Linked DNA regions of Homo sapiens: region 1 is linked to region 2. The links come from fine-mapping of genetic effects on gene expression. A gene starts in region 2. The other region holds a variant in brackets. All regions are shown on one strand. Distances are from middle to middle. Region 1 overlaps DTD1 (D-aminoacyl-tRNA deacylase 1). Region 2 holds the start of DTD1 (D-aminoacyl-tRNA deacylase 1).

Region 1 (16,770 bases), 160 kb before region 2:
GATCTAATTAAACTAAAGAGCTTCTGCACAGCAAAAGAAACTACCATCAGAGTGAACAGGCAACCTACAAAGTGGGAGAAAATTTTTGCAGTGTACTCAACTGAGAAACGGCTAATATCCAGAATCTACAATGAACTTAAACAAATTTACAAGAAAAAACAAACAACCCCATCAAAAAGTGGGCGAAGGATATGAACAGACACTTCTCAAAAGAAGACATTTATGCAGCCAAAAGACACATGAAAAAATGCTCATCATCACTGGCCATCAGAGAAATGCAAATCAAAACCACAATGAGATACCATCTCACACCAGTTAGAATGGTGATCATTCAAAAGTCAGGAAACGACAGGGGCTGGAGAGGATGTGGAGAAATAGGAACACTTTTACACTGTTGGTGGGACTGTAAACTAGTTCAACCATTGTGGAAGTCAGTGTGGCGATTCCTCAGGGATCTAGAACTAGAAATACCATTTGACCCAGCCATCCCATTACTGGGTATATACCCAAAGGATTATAAAACATGCTGCTATAAAGACATATGCACACGTATGTTTATTGCGGCACTATTCACAATAGTAAAGACTTGGAACCAACCCAAATGTCCAACAATGATAGACTGGATTAAGAAAATGTGGCACATATACACCATGGAATACTATGCAACCATAAAAAATGATGAGTTCATGTCCTTTGTAGGGACACGGATGAAGCTGGAAACCATCATTCTCAGCAAACTATCGCCAAGGACAAAAAACCAAACACCGCATGTTCTCACTCATAGGTGGGAACTGAACAATGAGAACACATGGACACAGGAAGGGGAACATCACACACTGGGGCCTGTTGTGGGGTCGGGGGAGAGGGGAGGGATAGCATTAGGAGATATACCTAATGTTAAATGACGAGTTAACGGTGCAGCATACCAACATGGCACATGTATACATATGTAACAAACCTGCACGTTGTGCACATGGACCTAAAACTTAAAGTATAATAAAAAAATAATAATAATCATAGAATGATAAGGTGGCAGATGACTTTTATTTTCTTCTTCGGGTATTTTGGCATTTTTGATATTTTCTATGAGTGAGCATTAACTTTGTAATAAAAAAAATGGCTTTCAAAAGAAATGTTATATGAGAAAGATGATTTAGGAATTTCTATTCCCTACTAGAGAAACACAGAACTGGAAGGGATCCTGAGAGGTTTTGGCCAATGGGTTCTTAAAGTTTTTAGGTAAACTTCCTAGGCATAAGAACTTTATAAAGCATCTAACCTGAAGGACAATCCATTAGGTATGCCTTTAGAATTAACTGTGCTACTACTGGGAACACTAATGGGCTGGCCTAATCATAAGATCAATGTTAGTATCATGAGTGATTTGTAAACTACATGCAAGAGATTTTTGGCCAGCAGTGGACACTGTTCCAGCTGAAAGCCACCGCCCACTACAATACATGGATTGGTCAATAGACGTTGCTCTCTATTTCTAGTCTCACTTGCTAAAGATGTCTCTTCCTATTTTCTTGAACTATAGAATAACCCAGGAGCCAGGTTACTGGCCATCAACTGGGAGTAGCTGGAGACCACGCAGCTCACATAGCTGGAAGCTTGAATGAGGAAGGTGGGAGTGAGCTATCTGTGAGGTCCATCTGCCAAATTAGAAGTGCTGAGCAGAAGTCCTGTTCAAGCTAAACACATGGTTCTCCAGAAAAGGGTGGACCATTGAGGCTTGAAATTCAGAAACCCTGGATAAGGGGTAATGTGCCTCCCTCTAAGAGCTACTGAAGGGATGATGTCTATTTCCAAACGCATGTGCGTCACATGAGCTACTGAGGGCAGACATGACCCAGAGGCTGGGGACACCTGACAGGCAGTAGTAAGAGGTGCCTGATAACTTAGCACCACAATTTCATAGTCTTATGAAAGAAGCTAGGGGAACCACCAGTTTCCTCCACCTGCTGTAGTAGTTCTCTTACTGCCGTCAACCACGAGGGACAGTGAGGAACATCTCCAGTGAGGCCAGACCAGGACCAGAAGAAAGGAAACCCTTCACAGCCCACGTAAACACTGAAACCCTCAAAGACACTGACTTCCAACTGACCTGCTTCTGGCTTCAGGCCATTTAAGCAACCACAGGATGCAAGTGCTAGACAAAACACACACATGCCACAGATCTGTTCTCCACATCACTGTTAAAAGGACCAAGATTTTTTTTTTTTACCTATTTATTTCAGGTCTTAGCTGGTAATCAAATCAGAATTCATTTACCTAGAAAGGTAAGGCTGTTCTATGCAAAAAACATGAGAGATGCTGGGAAGTTATCAATGCAGGCTTCACTCTGACCTTCTAGCACTGTTAGATTCCAGCAAGCTCCCTCCACTGAAGTGTCAAAAGATCCCCAGAATCGGAATCTCTTCCTTTGCTTGAGAGCTGATGGTCCTGACTTCACAGATAGAACATGAAAAGAATGATTTCCTAATTACGAATGGAAAGCTTAATGCAATGCAATAAAACAAGCATGGAGAAAAAATTGATGTTACCTGAAAGTGGTAGGAACAAACCTTGACAGCAATTGGCTTTTATTTTTTGGCTTTAACTTATTCTCCCATCTATTATTTCTCATGTATATTGTACTTATTTATATATCAACGTCTTTTTTTTTTTTTTTGAGACAGAGTTTCGCTTCATTGCCCAGGCTGGAGTGCAGTGGCGCGATCTCAGTTCACTGCAACCTCTGCCTCCTTGGTTCAAGCGATTCTCCTGTCTCAGCCTCCTGAGTAGCTAGGATTACAGGCGTACACTACCACACCTGGCTAATTTTTGTATTTTTTGTAGAGACGGGGTTTCACCATGTTGGGCAGGCTGATCTTGAACTCCTGACCTCAGGTGATCCACCCGCCTCGGCCTCCCAAAATGCTGGGATTACAGGCATAAGCCACCACACCCAGCCAATGTCAATCTTATAGTACTTAAAGTGATTCAGATGACAGTATCAAAATCATAACTTGATCCCTACAGGTTGGTGCTGTTTAGTTGAATTTTCTGCAATGATAGAATAGCAGCCACTAGCTGTATGTAGCTAGTGAGCACTTGAAATATGGCTACTGAGACTGAGAAAGTGAATTTTAAATTTTATTTAATTTTAATTTACATCTCAATAGCCACATGCAGTTAGTAGCTACTGTATTAGATGGCACACTCTAAATTATTTGTAAGCCTGGCTCTGCACCTTAGCAATAGATGGAATCACTAATCATGGCCAGTTATTTTCTAATCAATAAGGTAATGGCCAATTTATTTTCTAATAAATAAGGTAATGGAGGTGGAAGCCTGGGCATAGAGAAAATCCAGTCCCACTACTAGTAAAGTAATATAACATGCTACTCTGCATCAGTGAGGAAGCAAACCAACCTCATGGATAATAAAAAACCAGAATGACACTTAAGGTTTGGGAACAGTAACCTCCAGGTAAGAAGAAGAATGGGGCAGACAAAAATATTTGAATAGATATTACTTAAAATGTCCCAAATGTACTGAAAGCCATACAGTTACAGATTCAAGGTCAGCGGACCCAAAAAGATCCCCAGAATCAGACTGGGACTATGATACAGATGTTGGAATTATCAGACAGGGAACTTTTTAAAACTATGATTAATATGTTAAGGGCTCTAATGAAAAAGTAAACAATATGCAAGAACAGATAGGTAATGTAAGCAGAGAGACGGAAACTCCAAGAAAGAAACAAAAGGAAATAATAGAAATCAGAAACACTGTAACAGAAATGAAGGATGCCTCTGATGGGCTCATGAATAAACTGGACACAGCCAAGGAAGAATCAGTGAGCTCAAAGATAGGTCATTACAAACTTTCCCAACCAAAAACAAAGAGAAAAAGAATGAGAAAAAAAGAACAGACTATCCAAGACTGTAGAGCAATTGCAAAAGATGTACCATATATATAATTGGAATACCAAAAGGAGAAGAGAGAACAGAGAGGAAATTGTGAATGAAGCTAGGGGTATTGAAGTATTAATGGCCAAGAGCTTTCCAAACTTAATAACAGACATCAAATCACAGATCCAAGAAGCTCAGAAAATACCAAGCAAGAACCACACCTAGGCACGTCATATCCAAACTGCGGAAAACCAAAGACAAAATTTTGAAGAAGCTGGGGGCTGGGGGTGGGGTAAGGAGAACCCACCTTACCTATAGAGCAATAAGAATGAGAATTACAGGGGACTTCTCATAAGAAACTGCAAACAAGGAGAGAGAGGAATAAAAATTTAAGTATTGAAAATATTTAAATATTTCTTTTTCTCTCATGCCTTGGAAACTCAAAGCTGCTCCTCTAGGGCTGTGAGGCTCCTAGGGCTCTTTGTGTTTTTAAAGAAAGGCAAATTAAAACAACAACAACAACAACAACAAAAAAAAAAAACTACAAGTCTAGAAGTCTATACCAGCAAAATTATCCTTCAAAAACAAAGGCCGGCCATGGTGGCTCACTCCTGTAATCCCAGCACTTTGGGAGGCTGAGGTGTGTGGATCACTTGCGGCCAGCAGTTCAAAAGCAACCTGGCCAACATGTTAAAACCCTATCTCTACAAAAAATACAAAAAATTAGCCAGGCATGTTGGTGCATGCCTTTAATCTCAGCTACTAGGGAGGCTGAGGCACAAGAATCGCTTGAACCTGGGAGGTGGAGGATGCAGTGAGCAGGGATTGCACCACTGCACTCCAGCCTGGGTGACAGAGTGAATGAGACTCCACCTCAAAAAAAAAAAAAGACTATTTAAGTTAATGATAGTGACAATGTATTAGGTGAGTATCACATATGTAAAGTGAAATGAATGATAGCAATGTCACTGGGAATATGCTGTTGTTATAAGGTGCCTGTTACAGGTAAAGTGGTAGAGTGTCATTCAAGGTGGACTTAGACTAGTTAAAAATGTATATTGTAAACTCCAGGGCAACCACTAAAAAAATTGTTTTAAGTTAAAAAAAGATAAAAACACTACCCAGAGACACAGCTAGTTTTATACCATGAAATACCAGCACATGGACATGAGAATGTGGTACAAATGTTGATACAGGGAAGCAAAGTGAAGCTCAGAGAATGAAAGGAGTCCTACCTTGTATGGCGAAAAGAACAGTGAAAAGGGACTGAATACCTTTTCAACAGAAAACACACACCCACACACACACACACACACACGGCTGCTGTAGCTCATTAGGAAGAAGTGTGCTCAGCCAGGACACATCTTACTATTCAGACAAAGGTCACATTGAAAAAGCAAACAGATGGCAGCTTCCAAAACACTTTCTTGTTTGGTTTCAAGTGTGTTGCCATTTGAGGACAGAAATGTGGGGTGCCAGTCAGGAGCACACTCCTCTCACACCCTAATTACAGCAGCTAAGTCAATACTCAAATGAGGTAATACTTGACCCTGCAATCAAATCAGAAACCACATCATTTTAGTGAGAGGTGGCCCTAGTGCCTTTAGCAGTGGCCAGAAAGGAGAAATAATAGAGCTGCATCCTCACAGAAAACCTCAACTCCTCCCAGCAAGGTGAGAGAGCCCGAAGGATTGAGACAGAGGACAAAAACACAGTTAATTTTAGCAGTTTCATGTCCACTTGGTAAAATAAGAAGCAACATTTGCAATGTGACAGAGAAATGTCAAGGCCCTGGAAATGTCCTCTGAACCATGAAGGCTTTTGAATCATTTTCAAAGAAAAATATGCCCAAGATCATGCAGTTTCTCATTCAATTTTCTTTTGCCTTTTCTTTCTCTCTCGTGCCTTGGAAACTCAAAGCTGCTCCCCTTAGGGCCTGCCAGATTCCCTAGGGCTCTTTCTGTATTTAAAGAAAAGCAAATGAAAAGTGCTACTCCCTTCATAGTGAGGGGGCTGCTGTTGTTCTGGGGAACAAAACAAATGTCAGGGTCACCTTCTGTCTGTCACCATTTAATCCAGCTCTCATAGATATCTGAATATTTGGTGGTGATTTTGTGGCCTACTGGGATGACAAATTTCATCAGAAGGGGGAACAAAACCCACGGGCAACAAAAAACCCCAAATATATCATTGGAATGCCAGCTGTCACTTGGTTCTGGTCCCGTTTAGGATCTTCAAATCCAGGAACATGGCTAAATTCTCGGAAGCAGGAGCACCCAGCCCCGCTCTGGTCCTCGGCTAGTTGTGGGCGGCTCTGAAGGACTCCTCCCTGCCTGGACATCTGTCCATGCCTGACACCGTCACTGCTGACCCTGACGTAAAGAAGAACAACTGGATGCCTATGGTAAACCATCAATAAATGGTTTTCCTTGTGCGCTTTGTCCAAAACCCAGACAGTACCATATACATCGGTATAAACAAAACGTGGCCTCTGTCTTTCATGGGCCGATCTAAACTTGTTCATGAGCCTCCATGCGCTGAGTAGCAATAGGGGCGTTCCTGACCAGACAGAGGCTCCATTTCACCTTAATGTCAACAGTACTCTGGGTCCTCAGTGTCCTCTGTGGCAGGGTGGTTGGTGCAGCTCAGCACCTGGGCCCTGACACTGCACCACTGAGGGACGGTGGGCTACTTGAAGTTTGGTGTCTCTTGCTCAGGGACCCAAGGCCCTCTCTGGCTGACCTGGCCTCGTCTCAGTTCTCACCAGCATATCTCACTCAGTCTCAGGTGTCATTAATGACAGACCCCTGCAAGTCTCATCCAGGAGGCCAGTGGAGGTCACAGCTGAGACCTGGAGGGACTGTCAGTGCTATGAAGAGCTGAGGCCATGACCCCCAACCTCCTAATGAAGCTGCCCCCTCATGGCTTCTGCAGCAGGCTCACCTCACCACTTCTATCCAGGACCGAGAGTCAGCCCACAGACCCAACACAGCTTTCCTCCACACCCTCCACCAGGCAGAGAACACCCTCTGGAGCCTTCCCCACCCCACGGCGATGCTGAGCAGCACTCTCACAGGCCCTGAGGCCTGACCGTGTCTTGCTACCTCACTGGGCTGCAGCTGCCTCCTGGAGCCCTGGAGCCACCTGCACTGCTCTCCCTCCAGAATCCCTGTCACGGCTTCCAAGTTTCCTGCAACCCAACCCCCATTCCCCCACTCCAAGGATCCCAGCCTGGAGCACAGCCAGAACATGCCAGGGGCCTTCAGCTTCCCCTCCATCTGTCCCTCTGCTCCTTCCCGCTGAGTCTCCTAACCTGAAGGCTGAGGCCAGCCAGGAACTTCCCTCCATTGCCCTCTTCCTCCTCTTTTGCCTGCCTCTTCCCAAGGGCCCCATGATGGCATGGCTGCAGTGAACTTGACTTATAGGGAAGG[G/A]GAAGGAAAAACACAACTGCCTCCTCCTTTCCAAACACTTCCCGTGGGGTCTGCTCCCCCTGCTGCCTCCCCTCTGTGGCTGGCCCTATTTGGGTGATTCACAATAGCACCACTGACCCCAAGTTCTATGCTACCTAATCTGCACTACCGTGAGAAGGAAATAAATACATTATTAAAATGTCATTAACGTGAGAGAAGCAAGAAGTAGATACCTACGAGTCCATGAGAATTCCCCTCGTAAACTTAGACACTGGGGAAAAATGTGAAATGTTCACACCCTCCTCCTGCCCTTCTTTTTATGTGCTCAGTTCTCCTTCTATGAGCGTGTTCTCCTGTATGTTCTGTGACACATGCAGTAACTGTCCCCTTGTCTGCCCATGAGACCCTCGGGTGTTTTTCTTGCCCACAGAATTAGCAGAATTACTCCCAGGCTACCCAGGGGCCACAGAACACTAACATCCATGGTGTATTCTCTACAGGAATTACTCTGAGGCCAAATCTAAAGCAAATGGAAGTCTTTAAGTTGTTATGTTTTGCATGAATTTTAAAAGTAACAAAACTCAATACCCCGTCATAGATTAAACCAAAGATTTTCAAAGCACTGATCAGATATAAAGCAAAAATCAAGACATTAAATTTATAAAATGTATTAGGTTAATAATACAACCCAGGAAGGAATCAGCTAGGTGGTATTTGAATTTTTTAAGCTGTTTTGAAAATACAAACCTCCAAGGCACATGTGAATTTGTATTTGTGTGTGTGTGTGTGTGTGTGTGTATGCGTGCCAGTGTGTTTAGCTTGATAATCTGGGTCTGGTTGCTGGGAGACAGGGGCTTGTATGTTTCTCCCTCTCCCGTTCATTAAGTTCATGATGGGAGTCTGAACATTCAAGTTGTTTTTTTGTTTTGTTTTGTTCGTTTGTTTGTTTGTTTTTGAGATGGAGTCTCACTCTGTCGCCAGGCTGGAGTGCAGTAGCGCAATCTTGGCTCACTGCAACCTCCACCTCCTGGGTTCAAGAGATTCTCCTGCCTCAGCCTTCTGAGTAGCTGAGACTACAGGTGCGCATCACCATGCCCAGCTAATTTTTTTTTTTTTTGTATTTTTTATAGAGACGGAGTTTCACCATATTGGCCAGATGGTCTCGATCTCTTGACCTCGTGATCCGCCTGCCTGGGCCTCCCAAAGTGCTGGGATTACAGGCGTGAGCCACCATGCCCAGCCCAAGTTGTTTTGAACCTGTTGTTAAGGTCCCAATTCACTGCAGGAAAGACTATTAAGTACAGTCTTCAACAGAACTGGAAGAAGAGACATGGGCCATGCCTGAGCATTAAGGCTGGGAAGCTGCCCTGAACCCCAGGAGTGGAAACTGGAGTGTCCAATCTGAGTTTTGCTTCTGGACCAAGTAATTACTAAAACTTGGCCTAACCAGTAACAGTCCCTGCACCTTTCATTCAAGGAACAGGAGCAGCGCTGGGATGCTCTCTCTGTCATGCTTCCCTGTGATCCAGAGAAGCCTGAGAAAACACAGAAACATGGCGGGGAGGGAACATGCCTGCCCCCGCCCTGCCCAGGCTGCTGGGGCCAGTTCCAGGCACCATGACTTCTACCTGCCTGCCTTCCACAAAGCACTGCTGACGGAGATGAGTTTTCCTCCAATAGAAGAAAAACCATAGAACTTACTCACTGTCACCCAAAAGTTAGCAGGATGGAAAGAAGACCTCGATGAGTTTCTGAATTACTGCTTGACCCATTTAACTAGCACAACTGAAAAAGTATCTTAAAGGGCCACTCTGTGCCCTGTCTTCACTTAGCACATTTCACCTCTTTGGATTAAGGATTTCTGGACAGACTATAAATCAGAAGCACCAGCAATATTTGTGATGCCAAAACTGACCACTAACAAAAGTGAATTATCATGAAGTTTTGGAGGGGTGGGAGTGGAAGTTTTATGTGACGTCCCTTCCCTTCGAGGCACCCTTCAGTGTCCCATGCATACGTGAGATACATAAGCCAAGGCTGGTCACCACAGTGCTGTTGTCTCCCTGCACAACACTAGCAGGAAAACACAGTGATGAGGGAACAGTTAAGAGGACAACAGGACTCACTGTCCAGTCCCCTCCCCTAAAACTGTCTATGAACCAACAATCCACCCTTCCTGAGCTCTCCATTCTGTTCCTCTCGTCTGTGTATCCATTTGGGAGCTGGTGCCACTGTGCCCAATTACAACTAATGTATCTTTTTTAAATTTTATTTTTAAGAGTCAGGGTCTCACTCTGTCACCCAGGCTGGAGTGCAGTGCTGCAATCATGGCTCACTGCAGCCTCCAACTCCCAAACTCAAGCAATCCTCCCACCTCAGCTTTCTGAGTAGCTAGGATGATAGGCAAGCACCACCATGCTCAGCTAATTTTTTTTTTTAAGAGACGGGGGTCTCACCATGTTGCCCAGGCTGGTCTCAAACTCTTGGGTTCGAGTGATTCTCTCACTTCAACCTCCCAAAGTGCTAGGATTACAGGTGTAAGCCACCACACCTGGCCTAATATATCTCACTTCCTGGTATTGTGGATCCTAAAAGCCATTTCATAGGTACACTTCTGACCCTTGCTCTCTTTCAGAAGAGAAAGAGAAGGCTGAAAACCACCTTCTGGATGTTCTTCTATCATAATTTGGTGTCTCTTGGGTGAATTCTGTCTCCTAACTTGGTTTTAACCACAGTCTGTGAGCTGAAGGCTCCAAATTGTATGTCCGAGACCTGGCTCCCCAGCTCTAAAGCCACAGACTCAGCAGACGACTGGCATCACCATTGGCTGCCAACAGGCACCTCAAACACAACACACCCAAAATAGGTACCGTCAGCAACCCCCATCTTCCTCCCTCATCCTTCTGGATGTCTCCTCTTCCAATCTAATCAGTCACCACGTTGAAATGATTCTATTTCCTTTACATCTTTCAATCCCACTCTTTCCCCTCTGTTCCTACTATAATTTTTTCTCTGGACTTCTGCAATCACCTCCTAATGGGCCTATCTGCTTCCAGCCTCACTCCCCAAAGCTGCTCAAGTGAGTGCTCTTTTTAAACTTTGTATCTGATGATGTCACTTGTACACTTAAAACCTTTCAGAGGTCCCTCCCGCCCCAGGATAAAATCCAAATTCCTCAGGGTTGCATACCAGACCCTATACAATCCAGACCTCCTATTTCTCTAAGTTCAGAGATGCTCCCTGCCCTCCCACTCCACTTGGCACTCAACACTCCCACCCTTCTGCAATTCCTCCATTCCCAAACTCTCCTGTCCTTGCCCCCCAACCTCCAGATGGCATTTGCACTGCTCTTCTCTTGGCTCAGGCAGCTCTCCCCTGCCCTTGCCCCTCATCTGCCTCCCCACTGCCACCTGTCCTTCCAGATCTGGTCCCAGGCCTCTGAGGGGCCTCTCCTGACCTCCCATCTCCACCCCACACCTGTTCACACTCCTGCCACACGCACCGTGCTGTAGTATAACTGTTCCTATGCTTCTCCCTGAGCCTGTGACCTCCCCATGACAGGTCCTGGGTCCCTCAAATCTGCACCCAGTATTTGGTCCAGTGCTTGGCAAAATAAACAGGTTCCCTGGTGGGAGGAACTAGGCACAGTGCCATCAGATGGCCGCATCACATTTTCAAGGCCTCTGATGTTCAGGCAGGGAGGTGGACTCCGTGCTACAGTGAGCCACAATAAGAATAAAATGCCATTTTAGGAAAAGTAAACTCACAGTGCCACACGGGGCACTGTGAAGGATTTCAGAACACGGGGCAGGTGGCAATGAAAGTAGGCTGCTGAGATGGCAGTGCCCTTTGCTAGAGTGGCTAAGAGCAGGAAGGGAGATGCAGGAGCGCAAGTGGACTCTGCATCTGCATCTGGATTCTGTATCGGTGAGTGAGTGTTCTGCACAGGCAATCACAGCAGCAGCTGTGGACTGGCACAGGCAGCCAGAGAAGGTGGCACAAACAGGTTCCACCCCCAGGTGGGCACCCCAGGCCTGTGGTATGCCACCCTCCTGCATCTCAATGAATAAAATACAATCTTATTTGCTAACTGATATGGTTTGGCTGTGTCCCCACCCAAATCTCATCTTGAATTGTAGCTCCCATAATTCCCACGTAGGAACACACACGTGGAAATTATGGGAACTACAATTCAAGATGAGGGGCCTGGTGGGAGGTAACTGAATCATGGGGGCAGTTTCCCCCATACTGTTCTCTTGGTAGTGAACAAGTCTCACAAGAGCTGATGGTTTTATAAGGGGAAACCCCTTTCACTTGTTTTTTGTTTTTTTTTTTTGAGATGGAGTCTTGCTCTGTCACCAGGCTGGAGTGCTTGACCCTTATACTCTCTTGCCTGCCGCCATGTAAGAAATGCCTTTTGCCTTCAACCATGATTGTGAGGCCTCCCCAGCCACGTGGAACTGCGAGTCCATTAAACTTCTTTATCTTTATAAATTACTCAGTCTCAGGTATGTCTTTATCAGCAGCGTGAAAACGGACTAACACACTAACTTTTGTCTCCATCCTGGAAGGCAGCAGATTTAAGGAAGCTATGGATGAACGCTGTGAAATGAATGAATTCAGCCTCAGCAGCTATTCCCTCCTATTCATTGCTGCTTCCCCAAAATGTGGGAAGATGAAGCCAAGCAGGGAAACTCCTACCTGAATTCTGCCTCCTGAGCTACGGCTCCCGTTCAGAGGACACGTCGCCCTCAGCCCCGCTGCTGGCACTGCGGTCTTCTTTTCGGGGAGTGTTTCTTTCCTTGCTTGATTCAGAAGGTCCCTTAGCTCTGGTCTTTTCTTTCCTCTGCTGCTGTTTTTCGAGCTTTGACAGCTGATTAAATAAAAATAAAAAAGAATATTTTACAAACACAAACACATGCCTGTGTATCCCACACACCAGTGACTTCCCAGGTGGGAACCATTGAAAAGTTTTTTTCTGATAACCTGGCAGAGCACAGTGGTTCAGATATACCAAATTATACACAGAATGTTTTTCCAACAGGCACCTGAATCACTGAAACAAATCATTAGTCATAGGAGTAATCACTCTCAGACTTTTCCCCAACCATAATTCAACTTGGCACACAGTATGAGGGAGCGGTCATGCCACAGCCTTCTTCAACAGCCTTAGAAGAGCTCCATATATGAAGGCTTTTCATCTCTTACTTTTTTCTTTGATAGTTTTTTTTCTCATCAAGTTACCTTCTACTTGTTGTTTTCTTTTTTCTTTTCTTTTCTTTTTTTTTTTTTTTTTTTTGAGACAGGGTCTCACTCTGTTGCCCAGGCTGAAGTACAGTGGTGCGGTCACAGTTCACTGCAGCCTCAACCTCCTGGGTTCAAGTGATCCTCCCACCTCAACCTCTCAAGTATCTGTGACTACAGGTGCATGCCAATTTTTCTGTAGAAACAGAGTTTCACCATGTTGCCCAAGCTGTTCTTGAACTCCTGGGCTCAAGCAACCCACCCACCTCGGCCTCCCAAAGTGTTGTGATTACAGGTGTGAGCCACCATGCCACACCACGTGTTTTCTAAAGAATGTTCAAAACACATTACTCTTTGCTGAAGATTACAGAGAAGGCTGTGAAACAAAGTGCATTAAGCACACTGAACACCGTCTCAGTTACCAGTTGATTTGAGACTGAAGGCTGACTTGCTTGCAGGCTGCGTGGTGGCAACACTCAGGACACTGGCCACTAGAGCCTTCTTAGGCTCCCACCAGGCCAGCAGGGGACATGCCCCTGATGTCTCACTCGAATGGAACCTGGGCCCACTTCTTCCCTGAATAGTTCTTCAAAGAAAGCATCAGCTAGATGGCTGAAAGAAGCTTCCATCATCTAACACTGAGCAGCAGCCCAGCCACTACAGGAAAGCCTGCTGAGAAACCCAGCAGAGAAGACCGGCCAAGTTTTGAACCACGGAATTTTCTTAGACCAAAAAACACAAGAGACAGCAATACCCAGTTTTATCTCCCTCCCAGACTAAGTCTGTGAACTTTTTCTAGTTTACATAAAAAGAAGGAAACTTATTGAAGGGCTGGCTTCTCCCTGCTGGTCCCTGCCCCACATCCAAGACACAAAGAGGATTCACTTCCCCCAATCTGCCAGATCATTTCTTCCACTATGAACAGACTTTGAGTTAACCCTTCGAGAGATGAACAACCAACCAGTAGCTCTCAATTGGGTCCAGGAAATCAAATTTATTAATAATTGACTTATAGTAGTGGTCCCCAACATTTTTGGCACCAGGGACCGGTTTTATAGAAGACAATTTTTCTGTGAGATGGGGGACAGAAGAGGGGATGGTTTCAGGATGAAACTGTTCCATCTCAGAGCATCAGACATTGGTGAGATTCTCATAAGAAGCCTGCAACCTAGATCCCCCGCATGCACAGTTCACAATGGGGTTCCCGCTCCTATGAGAATCTAAGGCCACTGCTGATCTGACAGGAGGCGGAGCTCAGGTGATAATGCTCGTTCATAGGCTGCTCACCTCCTGCTGTGCAGACTAGTTCCTAACAGGCCACAGGGATTAGTACCGGTCCCTGGCCTGGGGGTTGAGGACCCCTGGCTTATTCTTTCCTACTCCCCATTTACCTGAAAAGCTGTAGAATACAGCTAAGTTTGGTTAATATACTAATTAGATTTTGTGAATGAAGACATCACTTCACCTTTGACTCAGCAACTCTCCTCCGAAAACTCCCCTGGATAAATTTCCACTTGTGTGCACAGTGGGGGCTTCTGAGAACATGGACTGTAGTGTCATTTGTATTTGCAAAAACCTAGAAACAACCCAAATGTCCATCAACATTAGGAGGACAGATACGTGTAATGTGGTCTGGTCCCCTAAAGCAATATTGTACAGTAGATCTACATATATCAAAATAGCCAAGTCTTGGTCAGAGGTGGTGGCTCATGCCTGCAATAGCGGCACTTTAGGAGACCAAGGTGGGCGACTGCTTGGGCTCAGGAGTTTGAGACCAGCCTGGGCAACATAGAGAGACCCTGTCTCTACAAAAAAAAAAAAAAAAAAAAAATACAAAGGTTAGCCAGGCGTGGTGGCACATGCCTGTAGTCCCAGCTACTGGGGAGGCTGAGACGGGAGGATCGCTTGAGCCCAGCAAGCAGAGGTTACAGTAAGTTGAGATCATGTCACTGCACTCCAGCCTGGGTGACAGAGGAAGACTGTCTCAAAAAAAATTTTTTTTAATTAAAAAAAATAGATAAATCTTGAAAATCATGTTATACAAAACAAATTTAGCTTCAGAAGGCTATATACAGTAGGATTCCACTAACACAAAATAATACTCTACATAGCTAGTGAGCTCATGCAAATACAGTATGGCCTGGAAGAATACACGCCAACTTCAATACACTAGTTAACATGGAGGGGAAAGAGGATAATGGGATCTTAGTGGAATGAATATATACAGGCTTCAACTGTAACCATCAACTTTATAAGAACAAAACCAGATCTAGAGCAGAGTTACTAATCAGTGCACTCCACAAAATGCACGTGACACCTGGACCAGCAACAGTAAGATGCTCGTGTCAGAATGTAAATCAGTACATAGCTTCCTTCATCAGCAAAGTATTGTGAGAGATTTCTTCTCAACTGTGAGCTCTGTGGTGTAGCTGACTTCATTCTGGCCCAAAATGAAGGTTGCAGTGAGCCGAGATCACGCCACTGCACTCCAGTCTGGGTGACAGTGAGTGTGCATACACATATACACACATATATAAATACTCATGAACAGGTCCAAGTTAGATGCTGAGAAAGTACAATTTTAGTTTTAAAAAGTAAGATGCCGTCTCAGTTTTGTTCTTTGTTTCGCCATGGCCTGGTAACAAACAGTTCATGCAGCAGCACTTTAAGTAGGAATGAATGATCTGGAGCAAAGATGACAAAAAGCTAGCATTTTTAAAATCTGAGAAATGGCCACACAGAGCTGCTTGTTACATAGTTCTTTGTAGTATTACTTTTCCATGGAAAAATATTTTTCTCTTGACTATTCTGCCACAGGTTAGGAGGAATTTCCTGCATCTAAAATAACAGGCTTCTTTCCTTTCGTCTGTCTTCTGGTATTAAAATGCTCTTTCTTTGATGAAATGATAAGGACAGTATACAGGACTCCTTCTGTCTCATTCCCTTTCTTGCAAACAGATTTTGGATTTTTGCAATGTGGATATACCCATTACTACTAAGCTATACACTTAAAATGGTTAAGATGGTAAGTTTTATGTGTATTTTACTATAATTTAAAAAATTAAGCAATTTTGGAAATCATAAGTTAGCAATCCATGCTAGACTCCCCAATTTCTTTTTGTTTTCTATATTCCTGATTCATAAAATCCAAATATCTTGAAATTGGTGTTCTGCAGTAAATTGTGGTAAGCTGCCTTCTGCTGCCAGCAATTGACATTTTATATTCGCATCCATGTGTTCATACTTGTATGTCTTACTTGTGTGTAGATGCATACACATATACACACATATATAAATACTCATGAACAGGTCCAAATTAGATGCTGAGAAAGTACAATTTTTAAAAAGCAAGATGCCCTCTCAGTTTTGTTTCTCATCTTCAGAGATTAAAAACAAAACAAAACAAAACAAAAAAAAAACAAAATGTGAATATCAACAGTCACAAAATTAAATAAACCTCCTCCCCCTTGCTAAGTAATCTCATGCAAAGGCCTCTTTGTGACCCAGCCTGTTCTTCACTTTGTACTCTTTTATGCTATTGAGAACCAGATCCAGAGAGGACGATGGGGAGTAACCCCAATTAGCACAGCCCTCTGGAGGCTTCTCAGCTCCTCGTAGTGTCATTCGACTCTGTGCTGAGGCAGAGGCACAGACACCACAGATGCAGAAACATCCATCTGACCTTCCCCTCCAACCCTATCCCCTCCCACCGAGAGCCAGCTTTTAAATCACATGTGATAACTATTTAAATGACAGGCACAGCCCACATTTCTGCCAGTGATGTAATGCTGACTCTCTTACAGTATTTATCTTAAAACAACCCAACCACATATGGCTCCATGCCGCAAACTCAAGTTCTCTGTGAGAACATTGTGAACTAACCTAATAAATTTAAGCCTTTTCTGGGAAAACTTGGAATCCAATGCAGCCAAAATGTGGAATTTACATCTCAAAGCAAGAAAGCAGCTGGATTTTTTTTTTTAAGGAAACAAATGAGAAAAAAGAAGAAGAAAAGAAACTGGTACTGCATATGAGCTCAAGCAAAATGTCAACAGCTTTCAAATTAAGAGGAGATGCATGTCAAGGAGAATATAAACCACTACAGGTCTGTGAACATACAATCTACAAACACTGAAATAGAGTACTTCTGGGTTTTTGTCTGTTTGCTTGTTTTTAATCAACTGGCAAGAAAGCCCACATTGTAAGGGAGAGACTGT
Region 2 (16,770 bases):
TTCAAATATACTAAGATCCTTATAAATTTTGATAGAAATTTTTGTAACTATTCATGAATGTTAAAAACTTAGAAATAACCATTAGGAGAACAAAAACACCATCTATAGCTCCTTCTCTCTATACACACACACACACACACACACACACACACACACACACACACACACTTTCTCTCATCTACTAAAAGAGAGAGTCTATGAGACTAGGTCAAAAAAGCTTATTGAGAAGCCAGAACAGAAAAAGAAACAAAATCATAAAAATAAAATAAAAAATATTCTGTATGATACTGTAATGGTAGACACATGTCATTATAAATTTGCCCAAACCCAGAGAATATTAGAGTGAACCCTAGTGCCAACAGGAGACTGTGGGTGATAATGATGTGCCATGAACAACAGTTATAATCCAACAATGAACTTAGGTTCATCAGTTGTAACAAATGCACCACTCTAGTGGTGGATGTTGATAATGAGTGAGCCTATGCATGCGGGGGCAGAGATATATGGAATATCTCTGTACCATCCTCTCAATTTTACTGTGAACCTAAAACTGCTCTAATCAAATAAAGCCTTTATTTAGAAAAAAAAAAAAGAGAATGTAAACTACCTCATCATTGTTTATAACGACTACATAGTAAAATCATATTTTGAATATATTCAGTTAAATAAAATATATTTTTTAAATTAATTTCACCTATTTCTTTTTATTTTTTTAAATATGGCTACAAGAACTTAAAATGACATATTTGGCTCACATTTGAGGCTTGCACTATACTTCTATTGGACAGGGCTAAGCTAAACAATCAAAGAAATACCACTGTATTAGCCACACCTCTGGGTTCCCAAACATTTTCAAAATGTGAACAGAAGAAGGGAGGAGGGCAAATGCCAGCAGAAGCATTCTGAGGACATGTGTTAAGTACAACAGCAGCAATAGCAGCAGCTAGTATGTGGTTCTAAGTAAGTAACAAGCATAAACAATGACTTTCCAGAAAAGGAGATGCTGCAGTTGCAGCTTCTTTTTTCTCTCCATCCAGGAGTGTCCCAAAGACCCGTTCCTGGATGTGGCTCTCCTGCTTACCTTTGATAAGCTCCGGCCTGTATGTTTTACGCAGCTGCTCCAGGAAGCTGTTGTAGAAGCCCTCTGCCTGCTCCGTGGGCATTGCTAGGTGGAAATCAGGCTTGTTTCCCTTCAGGACACACTGGAGGGTAAACTGGCTGACACACAGAATCTCGTACTGTTTGTCCATCACACTCTTCGACCAGTGCTTCCCACTCTCATCCTCAAATACACGCAGGTTTAGAATCTTTCGGACCCTAAGGGGAAAAAGAGCAGTGAGAGCTACCTGAGAGATCACAAGCCCCCCAACACACTCCATACCCCAAAAATGTCACCAGCTTCCGGTCAAATAAGGACATAATGATGACTCCATCCCTGACAGGAGGCATGACCTCAGGCAAGTCACTTATCCACCCTGTGCTTCAGTGTCCTCAGCTGCGATACAGAATAATAACAGTTCTACCTCACACGGTTGTTTTGAGATTGCTTCTTTTTTGCCAGTCGCTCCAGTTCATAGCAGCTACTGGTGAGAACTGGGGCTAAGATGACAACCACCTATTCTCTGCTCCTTTAGGTCGGGGATATGTCAAAACATGGGTCCAATTGTAATTTTTCATGAACGAATTCATCATGTTAGGATAAATGACATCCATTTTTAAACCCCTTCTTGGAGCTACTCAAAATGAACAATTCGGCTGAGAACGGTGGCTCATGCCTGAAATCCCAGTACTTTGGGAGGCCACAGTGGGTGGATCACCTGAGTTCAGGAGTTCAAGACCAGCCTAGCCAACATAGAGAAACCCCATCTCTACTACTAAAACTACAAAAGTTAGCCAGGCATGGTGGCGGGCGCCTTTAATCCCAGCTACTCAGGAGGCTTAGGCACAAAAATCGCTTGAACCAGGGAGGCAGAGATTGCAGTAAGCTAAGATTGCACCACTGCACTCCAGCCTGGGTGACAGAGGGAGACTCTGTCTCAAAAGAAAAAAAAAAGAAAGAACAATTCAGCAAATACACTGAGAGAAAAATCATGGTTATTGCAAATATGCAAAAAGATCTGGAGAAAGACACCTTGAAAACTATGTCACAAGCTCCTTAAGCCCCAGAGGGGCTTTCCCTATACATGTGAAGAAGGATAGTCACCATGGCAAGAAAGTTGACCAGGTGACATCTATAGGGTCAGATTTGAGAAGCACAGCAGAGAACCACCAGCATGAAAGCTGAAATCTCACCATTTGAGAGCCACCCTTCTGGATGATGTTAAGTAGATGACAGTTTCAAAGACTCTATAAATACTAATTAACTGACTCTTAATATGGGCACCCTCAGGGACAGGTGCTACTCATTACCCCCTCTCCACAGCCAAGATTTGTCTTATGTTGAATCACATCTCTTAAGCACCAGGCTAAGTATTAGCTCTGTAGTATGTCAGAGCCATAAAGACATTCAAACCCACAGCCTCAGTTTTTAGCCATTACACCACTCTACCACTTCTTTGAGTATCCAGAGGACAGCTACTAAAATACCACCATCACTGAAATAGTATTGAATGATAGTTATCCATCATCAACACCTTAGCAGGAATTCAGTTTCAAGTCTGATTTTCAATCTAACACAAAAGAATCAGTTGGGCAGGGTTATACCCAAGCTCTGAGCACCAAGGGGCAGAATAAATGGATCCAGCATCTAAAGTAAATGTGCCCCGTGGTAATGGAGGGGAGGAGGTGCACAGAGGGCACATTCTGATTTTATGTCTGGAATGAATGGGAGCTATAAAGTGAACAATCATTAAGCAGGATTTTAGGGCCATATTTCATCTGTGCTGCCTTGGCTAAGACACCTAAACCTTTCTATAGTCGAGTTTGCCCATCTATAAACTCAGAGAGCCAGGCAGGCAGCAGCAATGGCAACCCCTGCTCCTCAACCCCCGCCACCACCTTAGTAAAAAGATCACTGGCTTCAAGGTCAGGGAGCCCAGACTCTAACTGGGGTTCAGGCTTTTTGCTAAGTGTGTGTGCATGATCTGGGGCAAGCAATTTAACCTCTCTGAGTTCTAGATCCCTATGTGCACAGCGAGCTAGTAGACATTCTAAAAATACATAGTGCCCAGATAACTGCCCAATTTAAAAAAGAGAAACCAAACATAAGAAAAGAGGCTTGGTTTTTGCGTTAAGAGAACAAGAGGCATGCTCTGAGGCCACAGTAGCAAACAGACAGGGGACAGGCGGTGCTCCTGCTCAAAGGCTGACTTAGCGTTGAGGTCTCCTAAATCATTCTTCCTCGGTCTTCTCTGAAACACGGAGATAACCATACTACATCCAATGGGACAATGGTTAAAAGTGACAGGGGCTCACCTCACAGGCACAAAGTACTATGGAAGTTCCCAGCATGACCACCACCACATAGCCCACTCAAACAGCAATGACAGAAATGCATCTTACATGTGTTCCAGTTCCTTCTGCGTATCCTCCAGGGAAATACCCAGCAACACACATATGCCCCTTCCAATGGCACTAATCTGCTCTCCTCCAACTAGAAAGGAACCAAAAGGGAGAGAAGAACTCAGAACCAAACAAGGTCATAAAGCACTTTTAAGTAACCATAGGAGTATTTTAAACATCATACATACTTCTTATAACTTCTTTGGTTAAAGTCAGTACGTATTCGAAAATGAAAAGAGTTACATAAATGCAGTGAGATGATAATAATTCCCATCCATTCTGATTTTATCTCTGGAATGAATGGGAGCTGTAAAGTGAACAACCATTAAGCAGGATCTTAGGGCCATATTTCATCTATGTTACCTTGGGTAAGACACCCAAAATTTTCTATGGTCAAGTTTGCCCATCTATAAAAACAGAACTGTGTTTTCCTCCCCCAGAGAAGCCAGCTCAGCTATATTAATTCTCAGAAAAGAGATTCCTGCCTTTTGCAGAATATCAAAAAATATGGTAACACAGTATACAGGAAGCACAAAGTGGAAAATGTTCATATCATAAATGATTTTCCTACTTACTATGAGGACAAATACATAATACATAAAAATCACAATTTATGTATTAAGCTTCAACTCACCAAACTGCTATTATTTCCCAGTTTAGTTTTGTGGTTACATTCTAAGCCAATGATCTCCAAATATTTTTCAATCATGCATCTTGTCCATTTGAAAAAAAAAAGGCTCTAAGCACACACTCCTAACATTTGTATATGTATTTATAACCAAATGTATGCCCTACTACCACTAGACGATACCTCAAATGGTAGCAAGATGCATCATTATGGGCCGGGCATGGTGGTTTATGCCTGTAATCCCAGCACTTTGGGAGGCTGAGGCAGGCAGTCATATGACGTCAGGAGTTCGAGACCAGCTTGGCCAACATGGCGAAATCCCATCTCTAATAAAAATACAAAAATTAGCCGGGCATGGTGGCGGGCGCCTGTAATCCCAGCTACTCAGGAGGCTGAGGCAGGAGAATCGCTTGAACCCAGAAGGTGGAGATTGCAGTGATCCAAGATCACACCATTGCACTCCAGCCTTCCAGCCTGGGTGACAAGAGTGACTCTCCATCTCAAAAAAAAAAAAAAAAGATGCATCTTTATGATGGAGAATCCCTGTTTTTTTTTTCATTTGTTTTTCTTTTTAAGAGGCAGGATCTCTCTATGTTGTCCAAGCTGGAGTGCAGTGACTATTCACAGGTGCAATTCCACTACTAATCAGCACAGGAGTTCTGACCTGCTCTATGTCCAACCTAGGTTGGTCCATCCCTCCTGATGGTCCTCTGGTCCTGGGAACTCACCATATTGATGCAGAACTTTGGTATGACAGCAGGTCAGCATAGTGTACTATAGCCCAGAACCCCTGGGCTCAAGCAATCCTCCCTGCCTCAGCTTCCAGAGTAGCTGGGACTATGGATGCACGCCATCATACCCAGCTAAATCTGTATTTCAAGTGGTGCTTTTGAAAATTTTCTATTTTTTGCCAATTATTTGCCAATCTTATTAGATTATGTTATTTTACTACTTCATCTTGTACTGACCTAATGTGCTAATCGGAATAGAAGGGTCACCTCAGCCATTTTCTTGCTGTTTGCTTGCTTCTGCAGGGTAATAGCTATAAATATAACTAACACAGTAACATAGACTATGTCATGTTACAATACACTGCTAAAGAAAGGGTGAGAAACTTCCCTCTTTCTTCAGTTGCAATGGCAAGAGACCACCTGCTATTCAGATCCCAGCAGAGCACATCAATCCATTCCTGAAATATCAGTAATGCTTAATTTCTTTATTTTTAGGCTAAAATTTTTTAAATCTTTTCTTCTGTGCTGCTTTTCTTATAATGAACTATGTGTGTGTGACTTATTGTCCTTTGAGCCACTGCCTCAAAAGCTGAAATAGAAATAATCTATCCTGACATAGGCAGTAAACAATTGGGGGTTGGTTTGCTCATTTGCATTGCTTCAGAAAAAGCCTTTGGCTTTATTTGTTCTTTGAATAAATCAACATTACTTTCTTACAATATTGATATACTTTCTAAATTTTTCCCAAAGTATGTTTTAAAAAATAAAGGTCATGAAGTTATATCTATCATCAAAGTAAGGATTATATATTTTAGAAAATATGAGAAACATGAAAAAAAGAACAAAGGTAAGTACTTTAATATTTTAATGATTTCCTTTTAATATTGTATCTATTCATACATTTTAATTCATATTTGTTTTCAACTACTATAATAACATTGCATATAAATTTTTATAATAATATTGCATAAGAATTTTTTCATGTCATAACCTTTTCCTAAACACCTTTTAATAGATTCAGCTCATCAAGTAGACTGATTAACCATTCCATCTTGCTGGACATATGGCTTCTTTCAAAATTTTCACCTCAGTAAATAACAGTGTAGTGAAAATCTTCGTACACTAAAGCCTTTTCTACAGTTAGGATTATCTGCTTAGATTCTAGAATCACTGTCAAAGAATTTTGACAGTTTTATAATTATCTTAACATGAAACAAATTATGGCCCAAAGTCTATATATGACACAGAGACTGCTGTCTTATTTTGGAGCAGTTTTGTCCCCCCTCCAGGGACAAGTAGAAGGACTAGGAGATTCAAAAGGATTTTTTATTATAAGTAAATGGATCACCAAGGGAAAAAATCTGAGAATCACCACTTTGAACAAAAGATCAAAGGGCTGGAAAAGACTGAGATGTTTGGTCAATTTTTCTACCTACTAGTGGCATCAGACCTGAGATCTCTACTTCAAGAATTCATAACCTTTGAAGTTAACCTAGTTAAACCCAAACATTTTAGATCCTCTTCCAACACTGTTCACAGACATCAAATTTTAGCTGCTGACAATGAATGATGGGACATGGGGGTTATTGCCCTATTCCGTCTGTTAATATGTTTGAAATGTGCCATAATAAACTTTTAAAAATTAGATTATCACAGTACCCAACCTAAGGCATCAAAATGTGTTTGATCAAGCTGGGTGCAGTGGCTCATGCCTGTAATCCCAGCACTTTGGGAAGCCGAGGCAGGCAAATCACTTGAGGCCAGGAATTTGAGACCAGCCTAGTCAACATGGCAAAACCCTGTCTCCACTAAAAATACAAAAAAATTAGCCAGGCACAGTGGCGCGCACCTGTAAGACCAGCTACTCAGGACACAGAGGCATGAGAATCGCTTGAACCCAGGAGGCAGAGGCTGCAGTGATCAGAGATGGCACCACTGTACTCCAGCCTCGGCAACAGAGCAAGACTCTCTCAAAACAAAAACAAAACCAATTAGCCAATTGGAGAAATCTGATGGACTGGGCATCAAATGATATTACAGGGTTACTATAAAAAAAAATGTGTTTGACCAATCACATAAATTGAATATACCACATAGTAAAATGTGTGACTCCTAAGCTGGACATAGCGGTGGCGGCACACGCCTGTAGTCTAACTACTCAGGATGCTGAAACTAAAGGATCACTTGAGCCCAAGCGTTTGAGGTTGTAGTAAGCTATAATAGTGCCACTGCACTCCAGCCTGGGTGACAGAGCAAGACCCCATCTCTAAAACAAACAAACCATAAATGCATAAATTTAAAATAAATGTGAAGTCAACCAACTATTTTAAAATAAAATAAAATGTGTGACTCCTGATAATCTATGCTGTCCTGACCATAAAACAGGAAGTTAACATTTTAGAACCCCTAAAATAAAATGCCATTCAAACACAGCCACATTTCAGTGAAACCAGCCACATTTTAAAGGAATCAGAAAATCCCTTTCCATTACAATGCAACTAGAAGGCCTGCATAAGTGGAGGGCCCTTCTAACAGAATTCCACAGTTCCCCAACCCAGAATTCCCGAATTATTTACACTTTCCCATAATTAACACCCTTATCTTTTTTAATATGCAGGTTTGGTTGTTTTAACTGAAAGCATATAACTTAAATAGTGAACCAAAATAACCCAAACTCTTATTCAGCACATCTCACAGAATACACATTTTCAATATTCCAGATTAGCAGGATGGAGAGTTCAGGAGAGAGATCAAAATTTAAATCTGTCAGTGACGACCACACACAGCAGCAGACTGCAAGGTTCTTCTCAATAATGCAAAACATCTTTCATCTATGAATTTTCCCAGTTTTCATGAATTTAAATATCTACAGAAATGTTATAAAAGCTTTAAAATTCCTAAATCCCAGTGCTACTCTATTCCCTATTATTCCAGGACCATTTCCAAAACCAAAGCTACCAGAACAGCTTAGAAATCATTAGGCGGGGTTGAAAAATAGACTCTTAGATTTAAATATACGGTTTTGGTGGGTTTGGTTGTTTCTTTAGGGTTTTTTGTTGTTTTTGTTTTGTTTTGTTTTTTGTTTTGGGGTTTTGTTTGTTTGTTGTTTTTTGAGACAGAGTCTCGCTCTGTCGCCCAGGCTGGAGGTTACTGGCACAATCTCGGCTCACTGCAACCTCTGCCTCCCGGGTTCAAGCGATTCTCCTACCTCAGCCTCCCGAGTAGCTGGGATTATAGGCACCAACCACCGCTCCCGGCTAATTTTTGTATTTGTAGTAGAGATAGGGTTTCTCTATGTTGGCCAGGCTGGTCTCGAACTCCTGGCCTCAGGTGATCTGCCCGCCTTGGCCTCCCAAAGAGCTGGGATTACAGGTGTGAGCCACAGCCCCCGGCCTGTTTTGTTTTTAATTCATACTTTTGTGGACACAAGAACGCATATTTGGTGCAGACTGGCTCCAAGGACAGGATATCTGAAATTATTTGAACTGAAACAATATAGTTGTGCCAATAAAGACAGAAAAGACTAAAGACAATATAAAGCTTGTCATTTAAATGTTTTTTAAAAAATATCTTTCGTACCGTGGTTTTCTTAAAACGACTACTTTATCTACACTAATCATCTGGACCTCTGATGCCCAACCGAGACGAAAGTGCTGAGTGATGACCAGGGGTCGGGTAGCTTGGTCCACAAGAAAAAGAGAAATGTTTTCATCTTGAATTCTTTAGATCCCGACCCCTCCGCGCAGAGTTCAGCGGGCGAGGGCGAGGGGCGTCCTGGGCAGGGGGCGCCCCTCATCCAGCCTAGGCTCCAGTCACGTACGTGCACGCAACTGTCAAAGCTCAGCCCAAGGAGCAACTCTCCGCATCTGTGCATTTCATCCTGAGTCAAGCCCCATAAAAATTGGAATACGTAAAAATGGGCAAAAATTGAACATTTAAAATACAGCAGTGAAAAGGGAGGAGTGCCTGCTCCGGAAATGCTCTAAGCGTGGTTCATCAACACTCCCTGAAGAGCGGACCACGGAGATGCTCCGAGGCTCCGCCATCCCGCACGCAGGACAAAGGTGCTGAGAATGAGGCGCGCTGGTCCTGCACCCTCTGCCGAGAGCCGGAAGCCAGGGGCGCGCCGGGGCCGGTCGGGCACGTGCAGGGGGCTCTCCGGCCGCCGCGCTGCCCCGAAGCCGGCCCTGGGGACTCGCGGCTGCGCGGACCGAGCTCGCGAAGGGGACCAGGCTCGCGGAGGGGCCGCAGCGGCCCCAAGGATGGCGCAGGAAGACCCCCCACGCAAGACAGCCGGTCGCGGGGGTCAGGGGCGGCTCCTCCCGGGCCCGGCCCCGCCCGACTGACCTGTGACGCTGGCCCGGGTGACGCGCTGCACCACGGCCTTCATGGCGGCGGCTGGGGCGAGTGGGGCGGCGCCGCGCTGCGTCCGGCCTCGCGACTCTGAGGGCGGCTCCGCAGCCGGCGCCCTCTGGAGGTGACACCCGGAAGCGCGCCCAACTGGCCGGTCCGACTCGGTCGGCTGCTACCCACCCCACGTCGGCCACGCCCACTCTCGGCCTGGCGATAGGCCCACCCACTCATAGATTGACTCCGCCTATGCCTGCCACGCCCACCTGCTGCCCAACCGTAACCCCGCCCGTCATTGAAAAGCCCAGTCCCCACGCTCGGCCCTGCCCCATCCACATCTGGGTCCCGCCAGAGCCCTTTGATCCCCCCATCCCGGGCCCAGCCCCTACCCAGTGCCCAGAACCCACTCTGCCCCGAAGGTAGTCTCTATGCTGGTTTTTTTCTCCCACATACCCGAACCTAAGAACCCGTCATCACTAAGCCTTTAAATTCAGCCTGAATCCTATTTCTAATTGTATTCCTCTTTCCTCTTCCACTCCTCTGCACGCAGATCCTCCCAAATTCTTCTTCCTTGTCTTCCTGCCTCAGTGGCTTTTCAGATACCACATACAAAAGGATCTGCTGCCTAAAATAGCCATTTACCTATCTCACTATTAATTCGACTTAGCCATGTCATGATAATAAATAGGTATGTGATTCTAGAATTCTAATTTCTCATGTAATATAAATGCTACTAATTGGCCCCCTCACTGGGTTGTTAGATTTAAATGAACCAAACCACGTAAAAGTGCTTAGATGGCAGCAAAGGGCTGTACAACTATTACCCCAACAAATTATTATCATTGCTAAAAATAATTCCATCTCAGCAGTCTTCACCTTAAAGGTGACTAATAGCATTGGTGGGCGTAGAAAAGGCACTGAAATTGAGAAGAAACCCTCACTTGCCCAGAAAAGACTACAAACTAGTGTGCTTGTTTGTTAAATACTGAATACTAAATTGCCTTAATAACGTTGTCAAAGTTAACATAACCAGTAACAAGACATCATGTGCCTCCTGATATTGCACTGGGAAGGACACAACATCAATCTTGTGGTATTTCTGCCAAATAATGTATAACCTGAATCCAATCATGATGAAACATAGGACAAAAATAAATTGAGGAACATTCTACAAAATAACCAGGTAGGATTCCGAGAATTAAGGAGGATTTTTTTTTTTTTTTTTTTTGAGATGCAGTTTTGCTCTTGTGGCCCAGGCTGAAGTGCAATGGTGTGATCTTGGCTATCCACAACTTCTGCCTCCTGGGTTCAAGCAATTCTTCTGCCTCAACCTCCTGAGTAGCTGGGATTACAAGCATGCGCCGCCACGCCCGGCTAATTTTGTATTTTTATTAAAGATGAGATTTCTCCATGTTGGTCAGGCTGGTCTCGAACTCCCGACCTCAGGTGATCTGCCCGCTTTGGCCTCCCAAAGTGCTGGGATTACAGGCATGAGCCACTGCGCCCAGCCGTGGACTTTTTAAAAGACAGGAAAACTACCTGTAATCCCAGCACTTTGGGAGGTCAAGGTGGGCGGATCATTGGAGGTCAGGAGTTCGAGGCCTGCCTGGCCAACATGGTGAAACCCCGTCTCTACTAAAAATACAAAAATTAGCCAGGCATGGCAGCGCATGCCTGTAATCCCAGCTACTCGGGAGGCTGAGGCAAGAAAATTGCTTGAACCCGGGAGGCGGAGGTTACGGTGAGCCGATATCGTGCCACTGCACTCCAGCCTGGGTGACAAAGCAAGACTCTGTCTCAAAAAAAAAAAAAAAAAAAAAAAAGACAGGAAAACTAAATTAACCTGGGTGGTATCCTGGCCAGAAAAATCAAGAAAAGGAAAAGCTTATTATTGGAACAACTGGTAAAATTTGAGTTTTTGAAAAATCAGCAGGTCTCAATATTTTGATCACAGGATCCCTTTACATTCTTAAAAATTATTGGGCACAAAGTATAGCTTTTGTTTAGGTGGATTATATCTAAAAATGTTTACTGTTTTTAACTAAGAGAAATAGTTAACATGGATTTATCAATGCATTTAAAAATAGCAATAATAAATCCCCTACATATGAATATCAGAGCAATGAAGTCACTATATGTCACGGAGCCCCTGGAAAACTCCATTGTGCACTCCTGAAAGAATAAGACTAAAAAAGGGAAAATTGGGCTGGTCGTGGTGGTTCACGCCTGTAATTCCAGCACTTTGGGAGGCTGAGGCAGGTGGATCACTTGAGGTCAGGAGTTCAAGACCAGCCTGGCCAACATGGTGAAACCCCATCTCTACTAAAAATACAAAAATTAGCCAGGCGTGATGGTGGGCACCTATAATCCCAGCTACTTGGGAGGCTGAGGCACAGGAATCACTTGAAACCGAGAGGCGGAGGTTGCAGTGAGCCAGGATCACTGCCACTGCACTCCAGCCTGGGTGACAAAGTAAACCTGTGTCTCAAAAAAAAAAAAAAAAGTTAACATACTTAAAATGGAATTCAAAATGTTCACCCCTATGGTACAATAAAGACTTTGGCCTTTGTTAATTCTGGGTTTCTGGCATGGAGCTTTAAAAATTCTTGGAATTTCTCAAGAGACAGGAGTATCTTTGTTATTCATGAGCTCCTTGATTATTCCTGAGTTTACTAACAAGACAATTCAGATTGGGAGCTGGTCACTGGAAAGACCAATAGTGACTGGATGTCTGAGCCAGCCCAACCTGTGGGAGGGGTAGAAGACAGAGATTGAGTTCAACCTGTGGCCAATGATTCAATCAGTCATGCTTACATGATGAAATCCCAGGAAAGACTCTGGACATTGAAGCTTCATTGAGCTTCCTGGTTGCTGAACACATTGATGTGCTGGGAGGGTAATGGCCCTGATTCCGCAGGGAGAAAGCACAGAGGCTCTGTGTTTGGTACTCTCGCAGACCTTGCCTAACATATCTCATTTGACTGGTCCTAATTTGTATTATTTATAATAAAACTATAAATGATAATTACAGCACTTTCCTCAGTTCCATGAGTGATTCTAGTGCATTATCAACCCTAGGGAGTCATGGATACTCCTGACTGTGTAGCCAGTTGGTCTGAAGTGCAAGTGGTTTGGGGACACCCAAGTGTGGTTGGCACCTGAAATAGGGGCAATCTTTTTGGGAAACGTACCCTTAAACTTGCAGGATCTGTTCTAACTCCAGGTGATTCCTGCCAGAGTTGAACTGCAATTCACCAGTTGGTGTTCAATGAACCCCGAAGCCCTTCATACTCCACCATAAGAGTCATACCTTTTTTTTTTTTTTTTTTTTTGGAGACAGAGTCTCGCTCTGTCACCCAGGCTGGAGTGCAATGGCTCGTTCTGGCTCACTGCAACCTCCACCTTCCAGGCTCAAGTGATTCTCCTGCCTCAGACTTCTGAGTAGCTGGGATTACAGGTGCTGCCACCATGCCCAGCTAATTTTTGTATTTTTAGTAGAGATGGGGTTTCACCATGTTGGCCAGGCTGTTCTCAAACTCCTCACCTCAAGTAATCCGCCTGCCGTGGCCTCCCAAAGTGCTGGGATTACAGGCATGGGCCATCGCACCTGGAAAATCCCCACTTAAATAAGTGGCTCCACTTGTTTACTGGAGCCAGAAGTAACCTGTGATTGCTCTCTTCCCCATTCCCTAAGTATCTCGTCCATCAGCAAATCTTCTCCCTCTCCAAAACCTATCCCAAAGTGCCCTCTTCTCTCCATCCCTCCTGCAGCATCCTGCTCCACCATTCTTTCCCACTTGGATTTCTACCACACCTTCCTCACTGGTCTTCCTACCTCCCCTTTGTCCTTCTCCAATCCATTCTCCAGGCACAGATGAAAGTGATGCTCTTAGAATATAAAGTCTTAACAATCCAGACTCTGACCACCTTTAAATTCCTCAAATAGTCTTTGGTTGCTAGCTCAGGACTTTAGGATCTGCTCTTGCTCCACCTGGAACAGGTAGGTTCCTCTACATTCATTCACTCTTTGTACAACACACTCCTCTCCTGCCTTTAGGTATTCAGCTTCAATGCCACCTCCTCAGATAGACCTTCTCTGTCCACACCAAGAAAAGTAGGTGTTCCTGCTCCCTGTTTTTCTCATGTTTGTCCTGTGGGTTTTCTCTCATAATCTTCTGGCTACTTTCAATGAGTCTATTTGCCTGGTAAGCTGTGTTCTTCTACCTGTGTCTCTCATGCTTACCACTGAATCCTCAGCATCTAACACAGTACCTGGGGCTCAGGTAATATTGCCAAAGGAATAAGTGTGAGAAGCCAATTTTTTGGCTTAACAGTGTATCATGGATTTACAGTATTTCTCTATTAATAGATGTGCAGATGCTAAGAGCTAATATATGCATTGTAATTCCCCTAAACAATTTTTTCTATTGACGAATATTTAGGTCTGGATCAGTTGGGATGTTTTTTCGTTGCATGGAACTCAAAATGGCTCAAACTTTTAAGAAATGTGTTATTTCCGAGTAGCTGGGCCTACAGGCGCCTGCCACCATGCCCTGCTAAGGCAGGAGAATGGCGTGAACCCAGGAGGCGGAGTTTGCAGTGAGCCGAGATCATGCCACTGCACTCCAGCCTGAGCAACAGAGTGAGACTCCATTTCAAAAAAAGAAATGTGTTATTTCATTGGAACCTTTGTGCACTTTTTTTTTTTTTTTTTTAGATGGAGTCTCGCTCTGTCACCCAGGCTGGAGTGCAGCGGCACAATCTTGGCTCACTGCAACCTCCGCCTCCCAGGTTCAAGCGATTCTCCTGCCTCAGCCTGCTGAGTAGCTGAAATTACAGGCGCGCGCCACCACATCCGGCTAATTTTTGTATTTTTAGTAGTGACAGGGTTTCACCATGTTGGTCAGGCTGGTCTCAAACTCCTGACCTTGTGATCCACCCACCTCGGCCTCCCAAAGTGCTGGGATTACAGATGTGAGCCACCATGCCCAGCCCTCCTTGTGCACTATTGATAGGACTGTAAAATGGTGCAGCTGCTATAGAAAACAATATGGAGGTTTCTCAAAAAATAAAAAATAGAAGTAATAACCCAGCAACCATATAATCCAGCAATCCTACTGCTGAGTATATGTGCAAAAGAATTGAAAGTAGGTTCTCAAAGAATATTTGAACATCCATGTTCAAAGCTGCACTATTCGTAATGATTAAGAGGTGGAGGCAACTCAAATGCCTGTTGACAAATGAATGGATAAACAAATATAGTATATCCATACAGTGGAATATTATCCAGCCTTAATAAGAAGGAAATCTTGTCAAATGCTACAATATGGATGAATCTTAAGGACACTATGCTACTTGAAATAAGTCAGTCACAAAAAAAGGCAAATACTGTATGATTCCACTTACATGAGATATCTGAAGTAGTCAAATTCACAGAAACAGAAAGATGAATGGTGGTTACTAGCGGCTGGGGGGTGGAGAAAGGGAATTGTTGTTTGATGGGTACAGAATTTCAGATTTGCAAGATTAAAAAGGTCTGGAGATCTGTTTCACAACAATGTCAATATGCTTCACACTACTGAACTGCACACATAAAATGGTTAACATGGTAAATTGTATGTTGTGTGCTTTGTGCCACGAGAAGAAAAAAAGGAAAAAGAGAAAGAAGAAATATATTTGACCTGACAAGGCAGCTCCAAAGTTAACCAAGATCAGGAACCCAGTTCTTTCCCTCTTTCTGCTCTGTCACCCCAGCATGTTGGCTTTTCTCGGGCACCCCACAAGCCTGAGAGATGGCTGTGGCTGTTCTAGGCACCCCACCCAGACACAATGTCCTGATGAACAGCAGACCATCTCTTCCTGGCCCTTCCACTGAAGCTAGGATATCTTGCTCAGAGGCCCTCCTACTTAACTCGCCAGGATGAGGTCACACCACCATGCTTATGCGAATTACTGGTAAGGGAGACGGGGCATACTCTCACCCAAGACTGGCTCAGACAAGAGGTTCTCACCTGCAGGGGAGACAGTTCTCCAGGGTGCACGAGATGTGTGTACGGAGGAAAATCTGGACCTGGGAGGCTGTTGGTAGCATTCAGTGTCCAGGGGACTTGAAATTCTCAAGCTCTTGCAACACCTGGGGCAGCCTACAGAATGGATCATCCTGTCCACAATGCCAGCAGTGCCATCTTTGAGAAATACTGACATGGACCAATCAGGACTTGCCCTCTGGAGCTAGGCTAGTCCCCCTGAAGCACATGGTGGGGTGGATTGAGGGGTCTGTTATAAAGCAGGAATGGGGGAAGTGGATGTTGGGAAGACAGCCGGGAGTGTCTCTCAAAAGGTTGATTTCAGTTCGGTGTCATTTTGAACAAGTTACAATGAAGAACCTTCTGCCTACAGCTCTTCATTTATCTCTTTAAGTTCTTGAAAGTGGGATTGCTGGGTGAAAGGTTGTGCCCATTTTCCTTTTTGATACACACTGCTAAACTGGCCTGCTGAAGTATGTTAACACCAATGTAGGCCAGGTGCAGTGGTTCACATCTGTAATCCCAGCACTTTGGGAGGCTGAGGCGGGAGGATCACTTGAAGCCAGGAGTTCGAGACTGGTCTGGGCAAAATGACAAGACTGTCTCTACAAAAAAAATTTAAAGTTAGCCAGGCATGGGTGTGTGTGCCTGTAGCTCCAGCTACTCAGGAGGATGAGGCAGAGGATCGCTTGAGCCCAGGAGTTCAAGGCTACAGTGAGCTATAATGCCTGGGTCACAGAGCAAGACCCTGTCACTATTAAAAAAAAAAAAAAATATATATATATATATAGATATAGATATATAGATATATATTCCTACTTTCAAAGGACAGGCAAGTATTGATGGGAAGAGTAATTGCCTGGGTTACCATAGTGAAGAAAGCAACACAGATGGAGGACTACAGAAGACTGGATTTATAAGAAAGAAGGAGGCCAGCCATGGTGCCTCACACTTGTAATCCCAGCACTTTAGGAGGCTGAAGCAGGAGGATTATTTGAGCCCAGGGGTTTGAGACCACCCTGGGCAACATAGCAAAATCTAGTGTCCACAGACAAAAAAAGAAAGAAAGAAGGTATTGCACATCTGGCTTTCAGGAATGTCTAAAACATACTTTACTCCTAAGAACAATGGCATGTGCAAGTGAAGTGCTTGAGCATACACAAAGAACTTTCTCATTTGAGAGACATAACGCCGTTAGTGAACAAGCAGATACATACTCTTCTTCAAAAGGCATGGATGCTCAGAAAACGCAGGTGATTCTTCTGCCATGGAAAGATAGGTTCACTTTTTTTGTTGTTGTTGTTGAGACGGAGCCTCACTCTGTCTCCCAGGCTGGAGTGCAGTGGTTTGATCTCAGCTCACTGCAACCTCCACCTCCCCAGTTCAAGCGATTCTCCTGCCTCAGCCTCCTGAGTAGCTGGGATACAGGCGTGCGCCATCACGCCTGGCTTATTTTTGTATTTTTAGTAGATACGTGGTTTCGCCATGTTGGCCAGGCTGGTCTCAAACTCCTGACCTCAGATGATCCACCCAC

Evidence for each region.
Region 1: its variant is fine-mapped to the expression of DTD1 in whole blood (TOPMed, PIP above 0.99).

The regions. Positions count from the first base shown.
Region 1 is chr20:18,739,512-18,756,281 of GRCh38, reverse strand. DTD1 (D-aminoacyl-tRNA deacylase 1) reads right to left here. Exons shown (of 6, transcript NM_080820.6): 5 at 12,011-12,182. The coding sequence ends at 12,030. Among named protein-coding and RNA genes, the nearest start is that of LCDR, 46 kb to the left of the region's middle. The variant G/A (reference allele first, on the strand shown) is at 7,331.
Region 2 is chr20:18,580,553-18,597,322 of GRCh38, reverse strand. DTD1 (D-aminoacyl-tRNA deacylase 1) reads right to left here and starts at 9,269. Exons shown (of 6, transcript NM_080820.6): 1 at 9,208-9,269; 2 at 3,502-3,592; 3 at 1,082-1,317. The coding sequence starts at 9,250. LOC124904878 (a long non-coding RNA gene) reads left to right here and starts at 9,858. Exons shown (of 3, transcript XR_007067547.1): 1 at 9,858-9,898; 2 at 13,079-13,210. It also overlaps the pseudogene RN7SL638P. RefSeq lists enhancers at 8,733-8,792, 8,633-9,132, 11,804-12,098 and a silencer at 8,903-9,442.